5 separate regions of the Homo sapiens genome follow, and regions 1, 2, 4 and 5 are each reported to be linked to region 3. Evidence: microRNA targets listed by miRTarBase, many of them from high-throughput screens and not tested one by one. Region 3 holds a microRNA gene; each other region holds the end of a gene's coding sequence.

Evidence for each region. The annotated mature microRNA hsa-miR-943 reads CUGACUGUUGCCGUCCUCCAG and lies in region 3 at 2,615-2,635, opposite strand. An mRNA with a match to its seed (bases 2 to 7 or 8) in the 3' UTR can be bound and repressed. Matches are read on the target gene's strand: a 7mer-m8 pairs with bases 2 to 8, a 7mer-A1 pairs with bases 2 to 7 and ends in A, and an 8mer does both.
Region 1: miRTarBase lists RAD1 as a target of hsa-miR-943. Seed matches in the 3' UTR shown: 7mer-m8 at 1,935-1,941, 7mer-A1 at 2,485-2,491 and 7mer-m8 at 3,882-3,888.
Region 2: miRTarBase lists LHFPL2 as a target of hsa-miR-943. Seed matches in the 3' UTR shown: 7mer-m8 at 1,398-1,404.
Region 4: the mRNA of CADM2 is a reported target of hsa-miR-943. Seed matches in the 3' UTR shown: 7mer-A1 at 2,381-2,387.
Region 5: miRTarBase lists USP48 as a target of hsa-miR-943. The part of its 3' UTR that is shown has no 7-base or 8-base seed match.

The regions. Positions count from the first base shown.
Region 1 is chr5:34,905,100-34,909,353 of GRCh38, reverse strand. RAD1 (RAD1 checkpoint DNA exonuclease) reads left to right here. Exons shown (of 6, transcript NM_002853.4): 5 at 1-96; 6 at 406-4,094. The coding sequence ends at 589. It also overlaps a transcript of TTC23L not described here. Among named protein-coding and RNA genes, the nearest start is that of RAD1, 8.3 kb to the left of the region's middle.
Region 2 is chr5:78,485,330-78,489,583 of GRCh38, forward strand. LHFPL2 (LHFPL tetraspan subfamily member 2) reads right to left here. Exons shown (of 5, transcript NM_005779.3): 5 at 1-3,824. The coding sequence ends at 3,568. Among named protein-coding and RNA genes, the nearest start is that of SCAMP1, 130 kb to the left of the region's middle.
Region 3 is chr4:1,983,789-1,988,399 of GRCh38, forward strand. MIR943 (microRNA 943) reads right to left here and starts at 2,689; the gene lies at 2,596-2,689. NELFA (negative elongation factor complex member A) reads right to left here. Exons shown (of 11, transcript NM_005663.5): 4 at 4,130-4,219; 5 at 2,484-2,614; 6 at 2,326-2,395; 7 at 1,988-2,076; 8 at 1,020-1,131; 9 at 60-325.
Region 4 is chr3:86,066,322-86,070,575 of GRCh38, forward strand. It overlaps CADM2 (cell adhesion molecule 2), which reads left to right. Exons shown (of 10, transcript NM_001167675.2): 10 at 344-4,254. The coding sequence ends at 462. Among named protein-coding and RNA genes, the nearest start is that of CADM2-AS2, 240 kb to the left of the region's middle.
Region 5 is chr1:21,675,878-21,680,131 of GRCh38, forward strand. USP48 (ubiquitin specific peptidase 48) reads right to left here. Exons shown (of 27, transcript NM_032236.8): 27 at 2,421-3,562. The coding sequence ends at 3,540. Among named protein-coding and RNA genes, the nearest start is that of RAP1GAP, 8.6 kb to the left of the region's middle.

The DNA.
Region 1 (4,254 bases), not on the chromosome of region 3:
ATCTACTTTTGGAAATGCAGGAAGTTCCCACCTTGACTATCCCAAAGATTCTGATTTGATGGAAGCATTTCATTGTAATCAGACCCAAGTCAACAGGTCAGTTCTTAATATAGAGGTTGTCATTGGTGATAAAGAGGAGGTTAAATACCAGATTTCTGTTAAATAAAAACACTTTCAATCTGTTAATTAAAATGCACAGCATTTTATAAAAATGAATAGTAGAGTGCTGGACTTACTAGGGGATGTAGGGTTCTAACAGTGAATGAATTTTAAAACAGAAAATATTAGCAAATTGGATAAGTACTTGATTTTATTCTTAGATTTGCTACTTTTTATCCTTTACTTGGGAGTTCTGAGCAGTGTTCACTGTGTTGATATAACAGCGTTTTATTTTTTCTTCTACAGATACAAGATTTCCTTACTGAAACCCTCTACAAAGGCATTAGTCCTATCTTGTAAGGTATCTATTCGGACAGATAACAGAGGCTTCCTTTCATTACAGTATATGATTAGAAATGAAGATGGACAAATATGTTTTGTGGAATATTACTGCTGCCCTGATGAAGAAGTTCCTGAATCTGAGTCTTGAGTATGACAATTCACTGATATTTATGTGTACATTTATGATAGATGAAGTTCTTATTCTGAGTACAGTACTCTTTGTCATTTCATATTGGATTTTCTATAGAGAAGAAGCACAATGGGGAAGATAGGAGCAAGGTCATGTACCCTAATAGTTACTATGTTTTGTAAATCCATTTTGTAGAGGGCATGTAAATAAATGTTTTCCTGTAGTCATAGATTATTCAGGACTGTCCTTTAGTTCTGTCTTTTGAACTCATGGGAATAATTGTGAGTCAGCGTAACATTTCAAGAGTCTAAAGGTGGCCGGGTGTGGTGGCTTTAATCCCAGCACTTTGGGAAGCCGAGGTGGGCGGATCACCTGAGGTCAGGAGTTCGAGACCAGCCTGACCAACGTGGAGAAACCCCATCTCTACTAAAAATACAAAAAATTAGCCGGACGTGGTGGCACATGCCTGTAATGCCAGCTACTCGGGAGGCTGAGGCAGGAGAATTGCTTGAACCCGGGAGGCGGAGGTTGTGGTGAGCTGAGATGACGCCATTGCACTCCAGCCTAGGCAATAAGAGCAAAACTCTGCCTCAAAAAAAAAAAAAAAAAAAGTCTAAAGGCTTAAAGTTTGATGCAGCTACCTGAAATGATCTTTTATTTATTTATTATTAGAAAAAGCAAAGGCATATGGGCATTGCTTATTAGTTTGAATTCTAGAGACTAGATCTTAAAGTAGTGGTTCTCAAAGTGTTGTGCCCGCACCAACATCAGAATGGCCTGCAAACTTGTAGCAAACTCTGGGGAGGAGGCCAGCATTCTGTATTTTAACAAGCTTCCCTCAGGAGATTCTGATGCCTGCTAAATTTTGGGAACCACTGTTTTAAAGGAAACTTTTTTTTTCTTTAATAGCATTTAATTGTATGAGATGATTGCTTTTACATGTGATTTCCTTGCAAATGTTCTGAAGTTGAGGCATCACCAAACAAGTCTGAACAATTCTTTATGTGATTTATTTTTAAAGTAGACCTTTTGAAGAGATCTATGAATGGGATATAAAGCAATTTTCAGTGTTACAGGTTTTCTTCTTCTTCTCAAAACTGTTTGCTGTAAGTAACTGCAATCAGTACTTACTACTTTCCATTTGCTTATGAGTTTCTTGACAAATCAAGGTGTAGAAAACCAGTTATTAAGTGATTTTGTACTTTCCTGGTAGTTGTCACTAAAATAATTTTTGTGGCATATAAATATATTTAATAAAATGCAAAAATTATCTTCCTGTCTAGTAGAAAAAATTACATGAGTAAAGTGAAGCTTCTGTCTTTGTTACTGTACCAGGTGACAACAGCTGAGTGTCCCTCCATGGACAGTCACTATTGGCCTTTTGAGTGAGACAGTTCTTTAGGATAAAAACCTGTCATCCCATTGCAGGATTCATTTAGCCTTTCTGGCCCTTACCCACTGATGCTAGTCATTGTGACCACCCCACCTCCCCCAAATAAAAGTGTGCCAAACTATTCATTGTTGAGAACCATTCAATTGTATTCACCAAAATTGGAGGATATATTGGAATGCCCTACCTTAATATAGGTCACATAGCATTAGAGAAAATTGGTTTGGAGAGTATTACAGCAAAGTGTGCTGCAAGGAGGCTACTCCAGCACAATGGCAGGCACTGCTTCCCAGGCATATGGACAATTCTGGGAGGTGGCCAGGGTCAGCACCTGATAACTAGTAAGTGTCTCAATCTCAGCATACAAAATTTAGCAGTGACTACAAAAGAAGTTGGAATTTTCTAAAATGTTTGTATTCAAGAAGGAAACAAATGAATTTACTAAATGTTGTCAGAGTATTTTTTGTTTAGATAACCACCAAGAACAGAACAAACCTAAAAGATACTTGGGAAAATATCTAATCAGTCAACATTCTAAGGACTGTTAAATGTGAAATAGCATAGTTATTTTTTGTCTTTTGTTACTAGTGTGAACAAAGAACGGCGCCTAACATATAATGGGCATTTAGTAACTCTGTTAGATGAAAGACTCTCCAATTTCAGATTTTCTTTTAGCATCTTATTAGTCACTACTTAATTCTGATGATTTAGCTCTAAATTTATTTTGATCTCAGTTTTTTTATTTTTATTTTTGGAGACAAGATCTTGCTCTGTTGCCCAGGCTGGAGTACAGTTGTAGGATTACAGTTCACTCCAGCCTCAATCTCCTAGGCTCAAGCAATCCTCCCATCTCAGCTTCCCAAATAGCTACGACTACAGGTGCATGCCTCCATGCCCTGCTAATTTTTGTATTTTTTGTAGAGATGGGGTTTTACTATGTTCCCTAGGCTAATCTTGAACTCCTGAGCTCAAGCAATCCACCCGCCTCGGCCTCCCAAAGGGCTGGGATTACAGGCGTGAGCTATCATGCCTGGCCTAATGTATTTTTTAAAAGTTGAATCTAAAAAGAATTTAAAACAAATATAAATCAGCTCAGTAAGGATGGATATTTTTGTACATTTAAAACTATTATTTTAGGCCGGGAGTGGTGGCTCACACCTGTAATCCCAGCATTTTGGGAAGCCGAGGCAGGGGGATCATCTGAGGTCAGGAAGTTCGAGATCAGCCTGGCCAACATGGTGAAACCCCTACCTCTACTAAAAATACAAAAATTAGCTGGGTGTGGTGGTGGGTGTCTGTAATCCCAGCTACTTGAGAGGCTGAGGCAAGAGAATCACTTGAAACTGGAAGGCGGGGGTTGCAGTGAGCCGAGATTGCACCATTGCACTCCAGCCTGGGTGACAGAGCAAGACTCCGTCTCAAAAACAAAAAAAATTAAAATAAAAATTATTGTTTTAGCTGCATGTCTTCAGCTATTTAGAATTCAAAGACTAATGAATTGTTTCTAAGTCACCCTAACATCAAGGTACTTATTTTATAAAGAATTTCCTCCTTATTTGTGTTCTAATTGACCCAGGAATTTTTACTTTAATAAAAGTTTAACTTTATTTCCTATGGAAAATCACTAGGGGGAGTGCTCCCTCAGGCAGAGCAGGCGACACTTTGGTGCCACTACAAATTGATGTGTAGTATATAGAAGAATACAGTCTTATATTTAAAGACTTTTAGTTCTGTCTTTTTGAAGTTTATCTCTCTTTCTAGTAAAATGGTGCTTACTGTGAATGGATAATCTTTTTTTTCATTTTTCATTTGTTGATTTCCCATTCGATGATGTAGTGCTTCCACCGAGAATTGATGAAATGCTTCAAAATAATAAAAGTATTTGTTAAATTCCACTTTAATAAAAATAAGGCATGTAACACAGTCATTTTAACAGGAAGCCACAGGGTTTCTGTGGTGTTACCAAAGTCCTAGTAAAAATTAATTAAAATTGCTAAAAGGGCAGAATGTGGCACTCTCAACAGTGGGGTAGGCAGTCCTTCAGAACATAGAGACTTCCTTCTTTCCTTCCCTGTCTTCACATTGCTTGTCCCTTATCCCCACCTGAAATAAAATCTATTGGGTCCTGAGAAATCGGAGTGTATAGTATTTTTTCTTTTCCCAATTATGTTTGTAATTTGCTTTCATTCTCTTTGGAATAGGCAGTGCTGCTTTTATACTAGAATCAGGTTACAAGCACCCCAGGAGGAGTCATTAGCTTTAACAGAATTTCCCTCTCAGGAGTGGACAGCTA
Region 2 (4,254 bases), not on the chromosome of region 3:
TACAATATAATAGGATAACTACAAGTTTGAAGGCTCAAATTGAGTCCATCAGCTGTAAATACAATTTTATATTTGGCTCAAGTGGCTGTTGAATATCAAGTGGTGCCGAGTCCCTCCAGAGCACCTACTGACCCCCTCAGCCTTGGAAGGAGTTTCACCACAGTCTCAGAAGAAATCCCAGTCGTGCCTTTAACTCTTTTGGCCCTTGGGAGTCATTGCAACCCCAATACAAATGCCGGCCCAGGGATTTCCAGTGGCCACAAGTTATTGCACAGAGAGGTCTGTTCTAAGCCAGACTCTTACAGCTAAGGAGGTGTGAGATTAGCCCTTAAATACTGGTCTAGCATTAGCATGGTCTATAAAAGCATGTTAAGAAATAGCTCCTCAGTGATTATGTACCAGCTACTAGTTATCCTACTAAGAGAAAAGGCAACATGGCAGCTTCACATTTCACATGAAAGACTAGCATTAACTGGGCCTGGCGTGCGGGCTTAACTTTGACATAACACTAGCGATTATTTTAGACCCAGGAAAAAATGATTTCATACCAGTCTTTTCTTCACATAAGATTTGTGTAGCATTAAAATTATGGGTTACTGAATAAGCCATGAAGGCAAAAATGTGGAACTCTCCTTGCCAAAACAGAAACAAACATCCCTGTTTTGACTCCTGTCCAGTTTCCAAAACAAAACAACAAAACATACATACACCTTTGTTATTGCACATCTTTCACACAAACTTGTGTATGTATAATATACATATATATTTTTAAATATGCTACACATAAAAAAAGACTATGGCACTTTACAGAATATATGTTTAACAAAGATCATTACACCACAGATGTTTGAAAACTATACAAAAACCCTTATACAATTAATGCAACATTGTTTGAATTATTAGCACACAGGTTTAAAGAATCCACAGAATCCAAGGCAAATATTTCTGCCTCAGAGTTCATTGAGAAGCGCAGCCCATCCCATCCCGTCATGAGACTTTCTTTAAGCCAATTTCAGGCAAAATAAATAAGACTTTCCTGGTAGTAATAATGGTCCTATTTATTAGAAAAATAAGTGTGAGCCAACAATCTATTTTTAACATTTCTTTCTAGCATATTCCTCATACCCAGTGGTTTTTAAACAGCTGTGTGGAAGAGCATGGTTTAGACTAGCATGATTTTAGATGGTCCTTTCATCCCAAGCCTGGCTAATGGATTCAAGGTTTAAAAGTCCCAACATTACCTTTTTACTATTTACTAAGTCAGTGTTTAGGTAGTTTTTAGTGGTTTGGGGTTCTGTGTGTGTGCATGCCTGTGCTTTTGTCTTCTGTTGCATTCAGATTAATAACATAAACACTATCGAGTGAGTTTATTATGGCCAAGAAGTCACACTCCCTTGTGACTGTTCCCAGGTTGATCTAGAGGTACACTGCCACCTTAGCCAAAGAGCAGGTGATGGACATGCTCGGAGGATCCTGTGAGCTTAGGACTTAACTTGTAAGGACACTGAGATTGTAAACCTAGTGTCAGAAAATGGTTTCTCTATCCAAGAAAGAAAGAAAAGTGAGTCTTCTGATAAGTTTATGGAAAAATTTTGTGTTTTTCATCAAGGTTTGAGACTTGGTTAGAACATTATAAATGTACACACAGAGACAGAAGCTTTGTCCAGTGGCTCCTCCAGCCTCTTTCTGTGTGGTGTTAGAGATATGGTTAAGGTTTCCTAGGCTGCTATGAAGATACCCGTTTTTTTCTTCACCAAAATCACAGGATTTACATCTCACTCACTTTGAATTTTGGTTCAGGAATGGGAAACTCATTAAGGCTAGTTCCACACCTCCCACCCCTTTTGCCCTTAGCCCTTAATCTGTGAGAAGATGGTTTCTCATATAGGCCAAACACCAGAATGTAGTAAAACTGCGGTTGTCCCATTCCATCTCTGTATAATTATCTGTTCTGCACCAAGATACGGTGCTTTAGACTCAGACAGCTTTAACATGATTCACTCAGGGCAAGGTTGCAAACTCTGAAGTCAGGGTTGTATAGCTGGTAGCACAATACCTTGTCCACAGAAGGTACTTTTTCAAAACAAAGTCCTCAAGTGAGCAGATTAATGAACCCAAATACCTACACTTTTTCTCCTTCCAGAAATCTGGCAGTTCCATCTCACTTTCTTAAAGTGCTAAGGAGTGTTTCTGTATCATGATACAATTTTGAAGCTCCCATAATGTCAGAGTAGCTTGTTTCTGTGCTGCTCTGGTCATTCTGAGATACTATCTTCCTGAATCAGTGATATTGGTAATTTATGGAAAGTAGATTAAAAACCCCTGAATCCTTATTCATAGTGGTATTTGATTCTTTTTGTAAACAGGTGTAGGCAGTGCTGTGACCTTGATCTAGCGCCTCTTTTTGAATTAACTTTGTCCTCTGTGCTTTCCTGGAATTAAGGTCTTGGCTGCAGTTCTTCAGTTGCAGCAATTTAATGTTATCTCAGTCTGCTTTCAGGATCAACACCAGTAACTACAAAAACTTAACTCCCATAACTAGCTTCTTTTTGTTGTAGAATGCCATTCTGCTACTGTCGGGATTGGAAATAGAGCTGACTACAGCATGGTCACCAAACTGGGAGTAAAGGTCTCCCCCCAAGTGCCGAGATTCTGGCAGGTCCTCCCAGTGAACATCTGCATAAGCCACAGCTAGCTTGGAGACCTCAGTCCCTGGAAGGAGGAAACAGTGAGGTTTCCTTTCGCAGTCAAAGCACAATCCTAACCTTAGAAGAAAAACATGTGATCTCCAGAAGAAGAGGAGACTGGGCCAGAACTGGTGCTAGCCTGGCTGCTGGGAAGAAGAAAAAATACGTCTTCACTAGCAAGATTTCATATTTTTGTTCTCATATGATTGTATAGGTCCTTATTGTTTCTTTACTCAAATTTCTAAAATCTCTGGAGTGACAGTTCAGTTGATCCACCTTACCCTAGGATTCAGCCTAGAATAAGTTCCACAGCATGACTCCACGCCATCCCTGCTGACCCCTTTGGTCAGCTAAGCAAAAGACAGTGTCTTGCTGTGCCCTTTAGCACACATCCTGTCCCCAGTAAGTTTATAGTTTTCTGTTCGTTGGAGACAACTTGAAAGAACAGAGGAAAACAAGAACTCCAACCCAAAACCCCATTCTGAGGCAGAGATGCTCACAAGCAAGCAGTGTTGGAGCAGAAACAGCCTGCAGATCTGGCGGACGGTCTCTTCCGTTACCAGAGAAACTGCTGCCCTAATGATTTAGATTATTATCCTTCATTGAACCTGGGGGAGATGGAGTCTGACAGAACTTGGCAACTCCAGGTCTAGGATTATATACTATTTTCATGTTCCATTCCTTATAATGTGCACTGCAGACCGCATGTCCAGTAACTTTGCGTAGCTGGATGTGGCCTCTCATTGGTCCTGTTTAAGCCTCGGGCCGTGGAACGTGGCTTTGGTAGGTAAAGGTTAGTTCTCCACTTGACTCAAATGATGAAACTGTGGACTGTTTCACAAGATTACTCAAGGGAGAAAATGGCATTGTCTCTTCCAAACTAAAGGAGGCAGATCAGATTTTTCCCCTCTTCAATTTCTTCCTGTACTTTGTCACTAGAGGTTGCAATTTCTGCTTGTGCAGAGAAGACAGCACAGATGAAAGTGAGGACTGTGCCCCCAATGGCGGTATAAAAGGCCCAGCCCAAGGAGCAGTCTCCAGGTTTGTAGGCAGATGCATAATGTCCACAGTAGTCTATGGCCTTCTGGCAACCCCAGCCAGCAGGGTAGAGTATCAAACCGAGGATAAGGAATAGACCTGCAGAACAAAAGAGAAAACAGATTAGAAAATCCCCATGGTGCTACAACTGTCCAGATCTGTTGTAATTGTTACTTGATTTGCTTGCTTTGGGCAAGGGCATCTATTCTGCAATAGAAAGTGTTGGGACTGTTTCATGCAAACTAATCTGACCTGATCAAGAAGTATCACATTATTAGAAATATTTTCAGCCACTTTTTTACATGTTGGAATGTGAATCCACTAAAAATTTCTCTTCTAGAAAAGCAAATTGGTACTTTTCTTCTTCTTAAGACAGAGTCTCAATCTGTTGCCCAGGCAGGAGTGCAGTGGTGCAGTTGTAGCTCACTGCACTTGAACTCCTGGGCTCAAGCTATCCTCCTGTCTCAGCCTCCCAAGTAGCTCGGATTACAGGCACACACCACCACACCTGGCTAAGTTTTTAAGTAGA
Region 3 (4,611 bases):
GGTGGCCAGGGCCGTACCACCTACCTGGTGGCCTGTGGGCCCTACCAGTGTACACCTACCGTGAGGGACAGGTTCTTCTTAGGCTGCTGCTGAGCAGGGGCCTGGGTCTGCGGGGCCACCATGGCAACCGGGGGTGTCTGAGTGGTAGGGGCGACAGCCGGAGGTGTGGTGGGTGTCAGAGGCGAGGTGGGCGCCGCAGGCGTGGGTGTGGCAGGGCTCAGGCCGCTGTTGTACATGGGCGCCCGCTGCTTGAACTGCGCTGGCAACGTGGGGCTCGGGGCGCTGGGCTCCTCTGGTGGGCGGCTGGCTTCCCGGGAAGATGGGGCTGCAAGTAGACCGGGGCCTGGTGAGGGGGCTGGACCCCCACCCTGTTCCCAAACCCTAGTGCTCCTGGAGGTGACAGGCTCAGCTCCCCTTCTCTGTCCTGCTACCCTCTGACAAGAACTCCCTGTGGCCCCCAGCCAAGGCACAGGCCCCAGAAGCCCCAGCCAGAGGAACAAGGCCAGTGGTCTCAGGCCTTTCCAGACTCGCAGATAAGATGTCTGGACTCTGGCCAGCTGCTGGCCTGCAGCAGGTCCCCATACCGTAGGCACTGCTGGGAAGACAGGAAGGCTGTATCCTCAAGCCCCTTGGGCCCAGGACCTGGCCTGAGGTGCTGTGAGCCTGGCAGTGCCCTCCGTCTGGGAGGGGATGGCTCTCAGCTCCCCTCCCGCCTACCCAGCAACAAGAGCTGGGTCACCTGGCAGAAAACCCTTTCGAACCCAATCCCCTTCCTGCCGTGTCCCCTGGGGCCGCTGCCTGTCTGTGCCCAGGACGGGCAGGGTGGGGCAAAGCAGCTGGTTTATGTCTTGGAGCTCAAGCTGAACAGCGGGGCATCTGCCCCCAGCAGATTCTGGCTGAGGCAGAAGGGGGACAACAGAGATGCAGGAGTGAGAACCGCAGCCCTGGCAGCGCCCGTGGGCAAGGTCATGTCCTGGCAGGCAGCTTGGCTGGTTCCAGGCTGGGGCCAGCAGACTCACCTGGGGGCGTCTCGGAGCTGGGGATGTAGGAGGAGGCGGGAACCACGCTGGGCGTGGAGGGAAGGTAGCTCGTGGAGGGCAGCGCAGGCTCATTGTTCAGGGACCCAAGTTTCTGGAACACAGAGTTTAAGGTTCCTTCCAGAAGAGGCCATGCTTCCGGCATGTGCTAACACATGGCCCGACCCGGAGCTCCACTGCCACAGGCTGTGGCCCCCCGAGCTAGAGCAGGAAGGCGGGGGCCACTCTCCCGAGCTCCCTGGGCTAGACAACGGGACCCCTGGCCCCTGGCGCCCCAGCAGAGTTGGGGACTGAGCCGCTCCTGTGTAGGAGAGGGGAGGGGTTGAGGAGCCCAAACAGCCCATCTTGAGCACAGAAGGAGCGATGCTTTTTCTTACCACGAAGCGTTGATATAAAGGAAGATGCTCATGTTAAGAAACACAGAACACGCAGCGGCGGGAAGAAAGGAGCTTATTATCCTGAAGTGACCCCACAGTGTGGCCTCCTCCAGGCCCTGGCCTCAGACGACCCACTGCAGCCTCTGTGCACCTGCCGCGCCCCGTGGCTGCCTCCCACCCGCAGGCAGGGCCTGGTCTCCGGGACACTGAGGCCTCTGACCACCCAGCACCCCCACAGGCCTGTCCTGCACCCATTCACGGCCACGTGCAAGGCTTAGGTCCCACCAGCCCTGCCTGACGGGACACTGAGGCACAGGGTTGAGGAGGACTCCCCTGGCAGCCCCTCCAGCAAGCGTGGGGCAGGTTCCCGCTCCAAGCCTGAGTCAGATGCCCATGTCAGGGCACGGCCCACACTGCCTCTCATGTACATATACGTATATATACATAAATACAGACTGCACACATATGTACATACATATATATATTCTCCGACAGAGCACACTAGTGGCCACAATCGGAACAAAAGGGGCACCCGCAGTGGTGCCAGACATGGGGTGCAGCCCCGAGCCCTACCTGCGTGGACACCAGGCCGGCTGCGTAGTCCGGGGTGGCGTTCTCCACCACCGTTTCCTCCTTGGCCGGCTTCTCCACCACCTCCGCATCTGTGGACAAAACAGGAGTCCTCGCCAGTGCCCGGGCGCGTCTGCAGTGTCAGCTCAGGGCAGCGGCAGGGAATCAAACAGCTTCCCAGGGGAGGCCACCAAGGAGCGAGGAGAAAAGCAGGCACCCACCCACGGAGAGCAGCCTCACGGGGCACAGCCCTGCCCGCCGAGCGTGGGCACAACCCACCCCAACTGGGCAGGGCCCGCAGGGACCCCCATTGCCGCCGACACGCAGGCCCCAACCCCCACCGAGAGTCTTCCTTCTCCGCTTCGCCTCTCGGCCAGCGCCAACCATATCCAGCTCAGAGATGTCCAGCAGCTGCCAAGACAAGCACAGCCCTGCCTTAGTGACGGCACCAGGGCGCAACGGGCCCCGGGGTGCCACAGGAGCTGGGGGACGGGCCTACCTTCACACCTCGTTCCTTCCGCAGCAGCGTCCTGGAAGGCGGGATGGGGGTCCGGTTCCCTGTGGGGCTGAAGACGCTGGGCGCCGTGGGGCTTCTGAAGGGCGCCTGCTTCGGGATGCCTTTGAGTGGGGCTGGAGGACGGCAACAGTCAGGGCGCCAGCAGCAGTGACCGGCAAACGTCCCCCACCCCGAGCTCAGAACGTCCCACCCTCTTCTAGGCTAGCGCCGCAGAGGGGAAGGGCCAAACCCCTGGCGGGCAGCGGGCAGGACCCCCAGGATCCCGGACCTCAAGGAGCAGGGGAACGCCTGGAGCCACGACCTCACACTTTGCCAAGACACCAAACAAAGACAGCGGCACCCCAGCCCAGCCACAGGATCTCACCAGGTGGAGTCTCTCACCAGTGTGGCGGGGGCTGAGCTCTGCCTCCTTCCTGTGCCTCCACCGGCAGGGGCATGAAGCCAGGCGCCTGGGCTTGAGGGCCGCCCTCCCAAGCCTTCTCCCCGTCCCCTGAGGACACTCCTGAGGCCTACCTACGCTGTTACCCACCAGCGCCCACACGCACCCTCCAAGGCGTGCGTGGCTCTCATGGTGCCAGGCCCGGAGAGAGGACGCCCGGGGGATGGTGCCATCAGCACACCGGGCCAGGCTGGACACACTGCTCAACGGCTGGCCCACCCTCCCTGGGCCAGCAGGTGCAGCCCTGGCCCTGGGATGCCTGGTGGGGGTGGAAAGACAAGGGTCTGCTCCAGGCGGGGTAGAGGAGAGCAAGGTGGAACCTCGGCTGCGGTGGGCAGGAACATGACCCAGGGACGGCCCCCCACACAGCGACAATAGTCAGCAGACCCAAGATGCCTTCTACTAGGTCCCATGTGAACACTGTGGGATTATGGGAGCCCAAATAAACTAAGCCAGGCTGGTCTGGGAGCTGCATGGAGAGCGCCTGTAAGGCTGCCCTTTCAGCCCCACCCATCTGCAAGTTTACCCAGCTGTCTCAGCACAGGACGACACCCGTCCTGCCCTCTGGCCCCCAGGTCACTATCCAGCACCCTCTGGGGTGAGTATGCCCTGCCATGGTTCCCAGGGGCACGCCGTCTTCCTGTGATCAGGGTGCATCCTGCTTAAGCTCACGCCCAGCCCTGAGAGCACAAATCAGGAAGGGCAGATGGAGGGGTGCGGGGGGCACAGCCCCACGGGCAGCTGAGCACGGTCACGTCCTCCCCGCGGAGCCGCCCAGGGACACTCGGAACCCAAGAGCAGCACTTGGGGCCGAAAGCCCGAGCTGGGAAGGCCGAGAGCCACCGGTGCCAACAGCAGAGGAGCAGGGGCCAGCACTGTCCTCAGATCCCGGCCTTCCTGTCTCCATGCCCAGCGGTGTCCTCAGATCCCGGCCTTCCTGTCTCCGTGCCCAGCACTGTCCTCAGATCCCGGCCCTCCTGTCTCCGTGCCCACACATCCTCCCAGGGAGCTCCCCAAGGGGAGAAGCCGGTGAAATTGCCCCAGTGCCTTCGCTTTCCCACGGGCTCCCAACACTGCTGCCTGAAGACCATTCACAGGCACCACCTCCCCAACAGGGAGCGGGTCTCCAGGTGAAGCCCTTAGCTCTGCCCCAAAAGCAAGGCTCACGGCACCAGGGTGGGGGCCTTACTGGTGGTGTCCATCTTCCGCAGCAGCCCCCGGCCCTTGGCGTGGAAGGGCACCCCGGCGCTCCGCTTCAACTGCTGGGCGGTCTCCGTGGCTGGAAGGAAGAGGTCACATATGTCAGGGATCCTCAGAGCGAGAGCCCTTGGCCCTTGTAAAAACATCTCTGTCAAGTGGATTCATCCGACGGCCTGAGCCGTGAACGCTGCATTCTCTCTAAATGAGCAGCTGTTCCGAGCCGGGCCTGACACCAGCTCGCACTTTACAACGAGTCAGAAACTCACTCAGGTGAGCAAGTTTCGGGAGCTGGGTGGCTGTGGCTGCACCTCCCAGGACCCCATGGCAGGGGGGAGGCAGCCGAGGAGGAGCTGAGGGACCTCATGAGCCCTCTCCATCGACCCGGGCCTCCCCCTGGCCCAGTGGTAGCACCGTCCTCGCTGAGGGTCAGCAGGCACGGTCTAGATACAAAAATATGAGGAAGAAACAAAC
Region 4 (4,254 bases), not on the chromosome of region 3:
GACTCCGTCTCAAAAAAAAAAAAAAAAAAAAAAAAAAGATCTTAACAAAAGACCCTGTTTGCTACAGCTGTAAGGTTCACATTGATTTTATCCATCATTAAAGAAGTCACAATTACTTATTACCCATTTCAGTTTGGCTCTTGCCTGTAGTAAATCAAGCCATAACTTCACCTGCAGCGTACCTGAAAACTGTAAGAAAACAGTGCAACTTTAGAAGAGTCAATCGGGTAGCATATTAGGTCTCAAAAATCTGGCAAAAGTTTCTTCCTAAATAATGTAGCTTTAATGCTGGGTATTTTACCAGTCTCACAGAGCTAACATATTTTTCTTCCAATATATGCAGGAACGTATTTAACAAATGAAGCTAAAGGAGCTGAAGATGCACCAGATGCTGATACAGCCATTATCAATGCTGAAGGCAGCCAAGTCAATGCTGAAGAGAAAAAAGAGTATTTCATTTAAGATGCAGGCCAAGATTCTGAGTTTTACTACCAGGCTGAATGCTGGAGAAAACTGGCTATCATCTTTCAGAAGTCATTTCTACCATCGTCTGCTACCCTTATTAACTCCCATACTGTACTGCTATCAGTAGCCAGTGTATACCAACAATCAGCTGTTGAAAGCATCATTCTTTAATTACTGTACCATCCATAATGCAGGACATTTCTTACTGCCTAAATTTCACACCATTGCTCTTTTAACATACAGTGCTTGAATATACAGCCTTAACAATGTTAATCATCTCCTTGGATCATTATATTGAGTGGTTTTTATACATTAAAAAATGTATGCAGAGTTTTTTTCCCCCATTTTTTCCCCTTTAAGTCATAGACCTTATCAGTTTGCCATTGGACAGCTTTCACAAGTAACAGGATTAGGGAAGGACATAATGTATTTAAGAATAAGTGAAGGTTAGAGGTTTACAATTAATGTTTTCTACATGTCTGTCTTCAAAGACAACATGCTTTGGAAACATATGTCCTAGAAAACATAAAATTAAAAAAAAACACTATAGTGTAGTTTTTGGAATGTTGGAGATTATACTGGTAAAGCTGTATCGATTTGCTATTGAAATATAGTATTTGATACAGGAGCCATGTGTACGAATTGCAATCATGACATGGTATTTTCTATAATTATAGAGATCTTACTATTAGGATATTGTAGCTTCATTTACCAATAAATTATTCCAAATGATTTACTGCTTTTGGAATCACAAATATTTAATTCATTTCTCTAATTTGATTCTATAATTTATTTGCTTCATAAAGATTCACCTGCCTAAACAATATTGAAGTATCCATAGGGCACAATTTTCAGACATTTTAGTATCTGTATATAGTGCATATAATAAATCCAATTAAACATTATTTGATACATATTTAACTTTTTTGGCTGTATGTAATTCAGTCATAAGTAAGCATTTTCTAACGTCCATTATATCCCTTTAGGTATTACTTAAACCAATATTATAAGTAGATAACATGTATTAGTATTTTTGTCTGTATGTCCTAGCACTGTTCAACAACAAATTTTTCTAGTTCTTGTTAATTTTTATTTGTTATACAATGGAAGCACAATGTTATAAGGAAAGGTAATTTTAAGCTAACAACCAGTGCACAGCCTCAGGTTTTAAATTACAACCACAGTTGAATAATAACCTAAAAATAAATTTTAGTTTGCTAAAAATTTACAAATTTTCATTTTGCAGTTCCAGAGCTGCTTACCTATGTTGGTTTGCCAAAAAGAAGTGTTTAAGATATGTTTTCTGTATAAATGAACTAATTCTTTATATTAAATTCCTGTCTATGCATTTTGTGAGGTACAAACTGATGAAACAGTGAGTGATAGAGAATTTCTGCCATGCTTTTAACTCCAAAGTGAAAGTCTCTTTCTCTGGATTATTTTAAAATTTTGGCGTGTTTAACCATTAAGAAATGCTGTATTCTTAAATATGAAACAGTTAATCTAAAGTCTTATTATTTCTTCTAGTAAAATAAAATATTGTTAGATTAGTTCTCATTAAATTTATTATATGCTAAAGAATAAAACTCCAGTTAGATTTAAAAAAATCCCATTTACAAGCATTGCACCTTTAAGAAGAAAACAAATATGACAGTATGGTAGCTATACTTGTGATGTCTGACGCATGATGGCCTATGGTTTTAAAAATAGTATTGTGGAATATATTTTTGGGTAATAAGAATGGTTGAGTGCAACATCATGTATTAATATCAAATGAAAGACAAGGGTGCTGTATCTTTGATTATTTATCAAAAAAGTATAAATCTTTTAAGGAAAATGTTAGAATTTTAAAGTTTTTTTTTGATTGTTGAAGCATTTATCTTGTTGATTTCTTACAAAAGAAAAAGGACGATGTCAGTCAAGCAGCACTTTTTCAGAATATACAGAACATAAATAATATGATGTGGTTGAGTGTTAACATAATAAATCATATACAGTATGACATTTTAAGGAAATAAGTCTGCATTGATGTGATTGCATGCTTGTTTTTACAGTTCACTCCATACCATCTGTGGAAAAATGCAATAATATGTTAATATAGTATGGTAGTTTGAGAGAATCAGGTAGGTGCTACTAGACACATTGAAACTAGAATAGGTTTATAAACTGTTCATATCTTTCAATGCATAATCTTTAGAAAGACTCCACAAAGCAAAATTCATCCTGTTAGTACAAAATGGAAAGGTTCTTATTACAGAAGTAAGTTGTACAAACTGCATCATCAATTACTATGTAAAGCCTAATTTCAGGATGCACTTACAAAATTGCTACTCTTCATCGATGCCGTATTTACATCCCTCTTCATTTCATCTATATTCTACTTGGCTCCAACAACTAAATTGTTGCCTAAATAACTCAATCATTATTTATAGCACTGTAAAATTAGAAATCCAAAATTGGTTGCATTTCATGATTTTTGACTCTTTTAACCCTTCAGAGTAATATAAAATCTCATTAGAACTCTTATAAAACCAGTTAGCTAAAACAACTAGATTATTATACTAGTTATAAATGCTGGTATATTATAATTTGTGGGATCTAATTAAATGTTTGCCTATTAAATATAGTTTGATTTAAATGAGACACCATGTTCTGAACTGGAGAAAACAATATCAATGAAGTCATATTTTCATACCTTTAAAAATTATTTAATTTTCAACCAAACAAAAAATAAATTGTAAAAATTATGCTCATTTCTATTCCAACAAGTCAGAAAATAATGACATAATATTTCTAAATGAGAATGATGTCAATTTCATTGTCTGGAACATGCACACTTGTGTGCACATAGAGTCAATTTCTGTCTCTTCTAAGTGAGCACAGTAGGTAGGGAACTCAATGGAAGCAGTGTGCACACACACACACCCTTAGTAGAATATGGAGCATTATTCTTTACCAAAAGTAGCTATTCTCTGCCAGTGTACTGTTTACAGTGTAAATTGATTGTCCTCCGTCAAAATCAAGTCTAAGCGGCATTTTACTTTTCTTTTCTTTTTTATTTTCCATTTTTGGGTGTTCTAGATAGGATTATTATCAAAAGTAGGAGGAAAAAGAAATGTTTGTGAGTGCAAGATTAAAGACAGAGCGCATGAGCAGAGTACTGATGGTGTGCGTGTTTGTGTGTGTGTATATGTGTGTGTATAAGAGAGAAAGAGAAATCGAAAAGAGAGAGAAATTTCAACTTGTTTTCTTTTACCAGAGAATCCAAGAAGCAGTTTAAGGAACCTGATATTGGAGTTTAATCTAGAAACTGGATGATCTCATATTGATTCATGATGCTTAATCTTTCATTGAAACTCCACAATTAAAATAACAAATAGAGAAAGAAAACTAACTTTCCTAAATATGGCAAAGAAACTAACACCTCATTTATTTTTATTTCTTTGTAAAAATATAAATATCTCAATCAAAAGTACAGGCTCATTTGTAATTATGTACTCATGATTGTAACAGCATTGAGATTTCATATAGGCACATGTATAGCAGCTGTTTGACAGTGATGGCTCTTCCATGTAACATAGCAGTTATCGTGTAATTTAGTGCCACTTATTGCAAAGTGTTACCAAGGGGAACATTTCAAATGCCTTTTGTTTTTCTTTGGACATCAAGGTAATTTAGTGGACAACAAATATTAAATTTTACATTATGCTTTTTAATTGTGGAGAAAATGCAAAACCTCATGTCTTACCACAACTTTCCCATGGTATTGCTAATTACTTAGAGTCTCTA
Region 5 (4,254 bases), not on the chromosome of region 3:
AGAAATGTTGCTCAGGGAAATCAACAAAGTGCTACCTACCATTTTACAAATGTTTATAATTTGTACTTTAATGAAAAATAGAGGGTTCGAATAATGTTGATAAATCCCCAGCCAGTATTTCTGCCTACAGAATGTCTAGGAGATGGGTGTGTGTGTGTGTGTGTGTGTGTGCGCGCGCGCGTGTGTGTGTGTTTTGGGTGGGGGTGGTGATGCCAGCTTTCAGAAGTAGAAATGTTGTTGACAAAACCCTGTACTCTGGGGTGGGGGTGGGAGTATGGGGCGTTATCACAGACATGCACATTTTTTTTTTGTGACAAGGTCTCACTCTGTCGCCCAAGCTGAGTGCAGTGGTGTGATCACAGCTCACCGCAGCCTCGACCTCCTGGGGTCAAGCAATTATCCTGCCTCAGCCTCCAGAGTAGCTGGGACCACCGGCATACCTGGCTAATTTTTGCTTTTTTATAGAGATGAAGTCTCACTATGTTTCTCAGGCTGGGAAAATCTTCTTAAAATGAAAACGCTGGCTTTTAATCTGCATGCACTCTGTTCGCAGTCCCCTATTAACACTGAATGAGCTGAGGACTAAAGTACCCAAGAGAAAGGATATGATTCTGCCCCATGATTCGGTAACAGGAAAGACAGGCTTTCTTGCTCATTTCGCTTCAGCGGTTTGTTTAGACAGAGATAAATCATCCCTTGGGTTTTTAAAACAGGTTATTCAACCTGAGCATTAGATTCCAATATTAACCAGAGTCTGATGAACAGATCTATGACCACATAGACCAACCAAAAGCACATTTAAAATAACCAAAAAATTCACTATGGATTATGCTCCCACAGAAATAAAGGGACACTCATATCTTTTAAATTTGGCAGGAAGGTAACAGTAATTCTAAACAATAGAGTTCATAAATACACAGAAAGATACTTACTCCCCAGGAAATGAAGACACCCAAATGCAGCCTATATTTCAGTTCGTGGTGACAATCTGTACCAGTGTAGTATGCTGAACACATTCGTTTCAGATTAAAGAATGGTCAGAAATATCAAGGGGAAAAGACCCAAGCTTCATAATACCTTATACCGGAGACTGATCTAATATAAAAAAGTACACATGCATGGCATTAGAACCCCAACACAAAGAGTCTCTGAACTTTTCACAGTCCAGAAGGCAAATGGACTCCATCTATTCATAATTACAGACGAAACGAGAATCGGGCTTTAGGTCATACCCTTTACCTGTTTTTCCCTGTACCAAGTGAGAAGGGTGGCAATGCAAAACCATTCAATACAAGCATACGTTTCTTTGCAACTCTGCCTACTATGGGTGGGAGAGGCCCCAAGCCCAGGGTTTCAAAGAGTACAGGAGTGGCCTGTGGATGCAGATTCCGATTCAGCGGGTCTAGGGCCTGAGCTCCTGCCTTGGTAATAAAGCTTCACAGTGTCACTGGAGCCGCTGGGCTGCAGTTACTTTCAGCAGTGCTGGCAGAACAAGGCAAGTTGTCAGAGCAGGAGGAAGATGACCCTGAGCCAAGGGCAGACTCTTGCAGCATCACCTGCTCACTCGGTGCCCACCCCACCCCTGGACAGAGATAATAAAGAAGCCAGTACTCAGAGCAGGTACCACCAGCCTGAAAGATTTACAAAAGGCTGTTATTTCGTAGCATTGCAGGAGGAAAAAATACCCAAGTAACAAATTTCAAAACTGTTATCAACAGCAAATTGGGGAAAATATATCAGATTTCTGGGGGCTGCTAACATGTTTATGTCAATCCCCAAAAAGAACCTTCTCTGGCCAACAAGCTTCTTTGTAAGGAAAAGGAAGTGGCTTCAATCAAGCATTGTGCGAACTTTTATAAAAGTCTTTACCTTGGGAAAGAAGAAGTTTGTGTTATTAGTTTTAGGCTCCTGCATTCATTTCTTTGGAGCTAATAAAACAATGAGATCTAAAAATCAGGATCCATCAGCTCAACTTCAAGTCCTTCCCCTGTGCCAACCTCAAGGCCAGAACAGTTGGTCCCTTGGTTCCACTCCTAGGATGGTTTCTCAGGGGGCTGTGTGCAGCTCTCACCTTCCCCCATAGATAGGCTCATTAGAGACCCCCTGCCTCCTCAGGGGACACAGACTGAAGACATTAGAAACACAGAGGGGAAACACAAACACGAAGTTAGAATTTTACCAAATGGCCGTAATTACTCTGACAAAAGGAGCTATTCAAAAGGGATGCTGCCAAGGTTATCGGGTCTCAAATCAAAATCTGCCTTCCCCATCCATGATCTGAGTTCACATTTTCATGAAAGGGGGAAAAAGCCTTGCACAAACCCAAGGCCAAGAAAAGTGTTAACAAGAGAGATGCCTAAGCTAGCATCTCAGCCACAAACTTACACAGACGGACTCAACAGAGAAAACTTTTTTTTTTTTTTCAAAGGAAAAACTCCAGTCTTAAGTTCAATTAAAAAAACCCCTTCAATATTCTTAAGAATATTGCTTCGGTTACGTGTTGCTAAGAATGATAATCCTGAGTTGGATGGACAGCACATCCATATACTTTTTTCCTTTTTTAAACAATGATCTAAGAGACCCTCTCAGGGCATTTTGGAATAATGCTTTCAAAAAGAGAACTGAGGTCCAAGAAACAGTGACATGGAGGACAGGAAGAACAAATTTTATAGAAACCTTGTGTTATCCAAATGTACTTCAGTCTGATTTACTCTTCTGATAGGTAGTCAGATTTTTTATTTTCAAACGTGCCAGGTACATTTCCCACTTTTGAATAACAGCAAAACCGGAAGAGGATGCTTTCACACATAATAAATGTTCTCCATCCTTTCTGAAATGCACCAAAGCAAAAAGCCTCTGAAGTCAAAACATGAGACATAATTCCTTGCTCATTGCAGGAGACATGCAGGTGCCCCCTCCTTTACCCAATACCAAGAGACAGACGGCCGGGCAGGTGTAAGGCGGGTGGCGCTGCAGCTGACATGGAGAAGAGTCTAAATCTGAAGACACTTTTCCACACTTAGGACAAGTTCTTCACTTTCATGCTTTATTGAAAGTAGAATATGAATCAAAGACAGGCATTGGTAAGCAGGTTATGTCTCTAAAATTACTTTTCGTTCAGAGCAGAATGTTGTCCCATCTACTTGATACAATCCTTTATGGACCAACGCATCTGGTATGAAACTCGAGCAAGGAAATATAACAGAACTTTATTCCCCTCCCACGACTATAAATCTCATATGTAAACATGATTTACTATTACTGCTACTAAACTTGTTCCGTCTTTACTTGCCCCCTCCCACCCACCACCCCCCTTAAATATAAAATTGGAAACATTTCCTTCAAGTCTGATGTCCATCAGTGCAATCTGCTTTATTTGACATAAGGCATTTGGGACAGTCACGTTTGAATGGATTTCTGCCTTTTGGAAGGGGCATGTAATGGTTTAATTCTTAAATCCACCTTTGCTTTAATGCCCTAACATGTCAAACTCCTCTTCCCCTCTGGTCATTTCTTAGCAGTCAGCAAGTATTCAAAGATTAATGTCCAAGAAGACCAGTACCTGGGAAAAGAAACACACGTGGAGGGATAGTTGTGAACTACAGATTAAAAGTTCATGGATTCCATTTACCAAGAACACATCATCAACAGGGAGCATCAAATTTAATAAATGAACACAGTCGCACCTTGGTGTGGGAGGATAAGACAAAATACCAGCAGACTCCAGGCTCTCCGCTAAATCACATTTTTGTTGAAAGCCATGTGCTTCCTAAGTGTATCTTCACACAAACTAACCAGATTTTATTGATTCTTTCATTTAATGACCATTCTTCTTTTCTGAGAGTTTCACTCTTGTCGCCCAGGCTGGAGTGCAGTGGTGCAATCCTGGCTCACTGCAACCTTATCTCCCAGGTTCAAGCATTCTCCTGCCTCAGCCTCCCAAGTAGCTGAGATTACAGGCGCACGCCACCATGCCCGGCTAATTTTTGTATTTTTAGTAGAGATGGGGTTTCACCATGTTGGCCAGACTGGTCTCGAACTCCTGACCTCAAGTGACCCACCCGTCTCAACCTCCAAAAGTGCTGGGATTACAGGCGTGAGCCACCATGCCCGGCCAATGACCATTTTTCATAAAGACGTTTTTTGCTTTGTTTTGACCCCATCAGGAGTCCCTTTGTAATGGTAGCATGCAGACAACACAGCTGCAGCAAGAGGAAGACTTTATTTTGGCCAGTAGATTTGTCTCTCATTTGC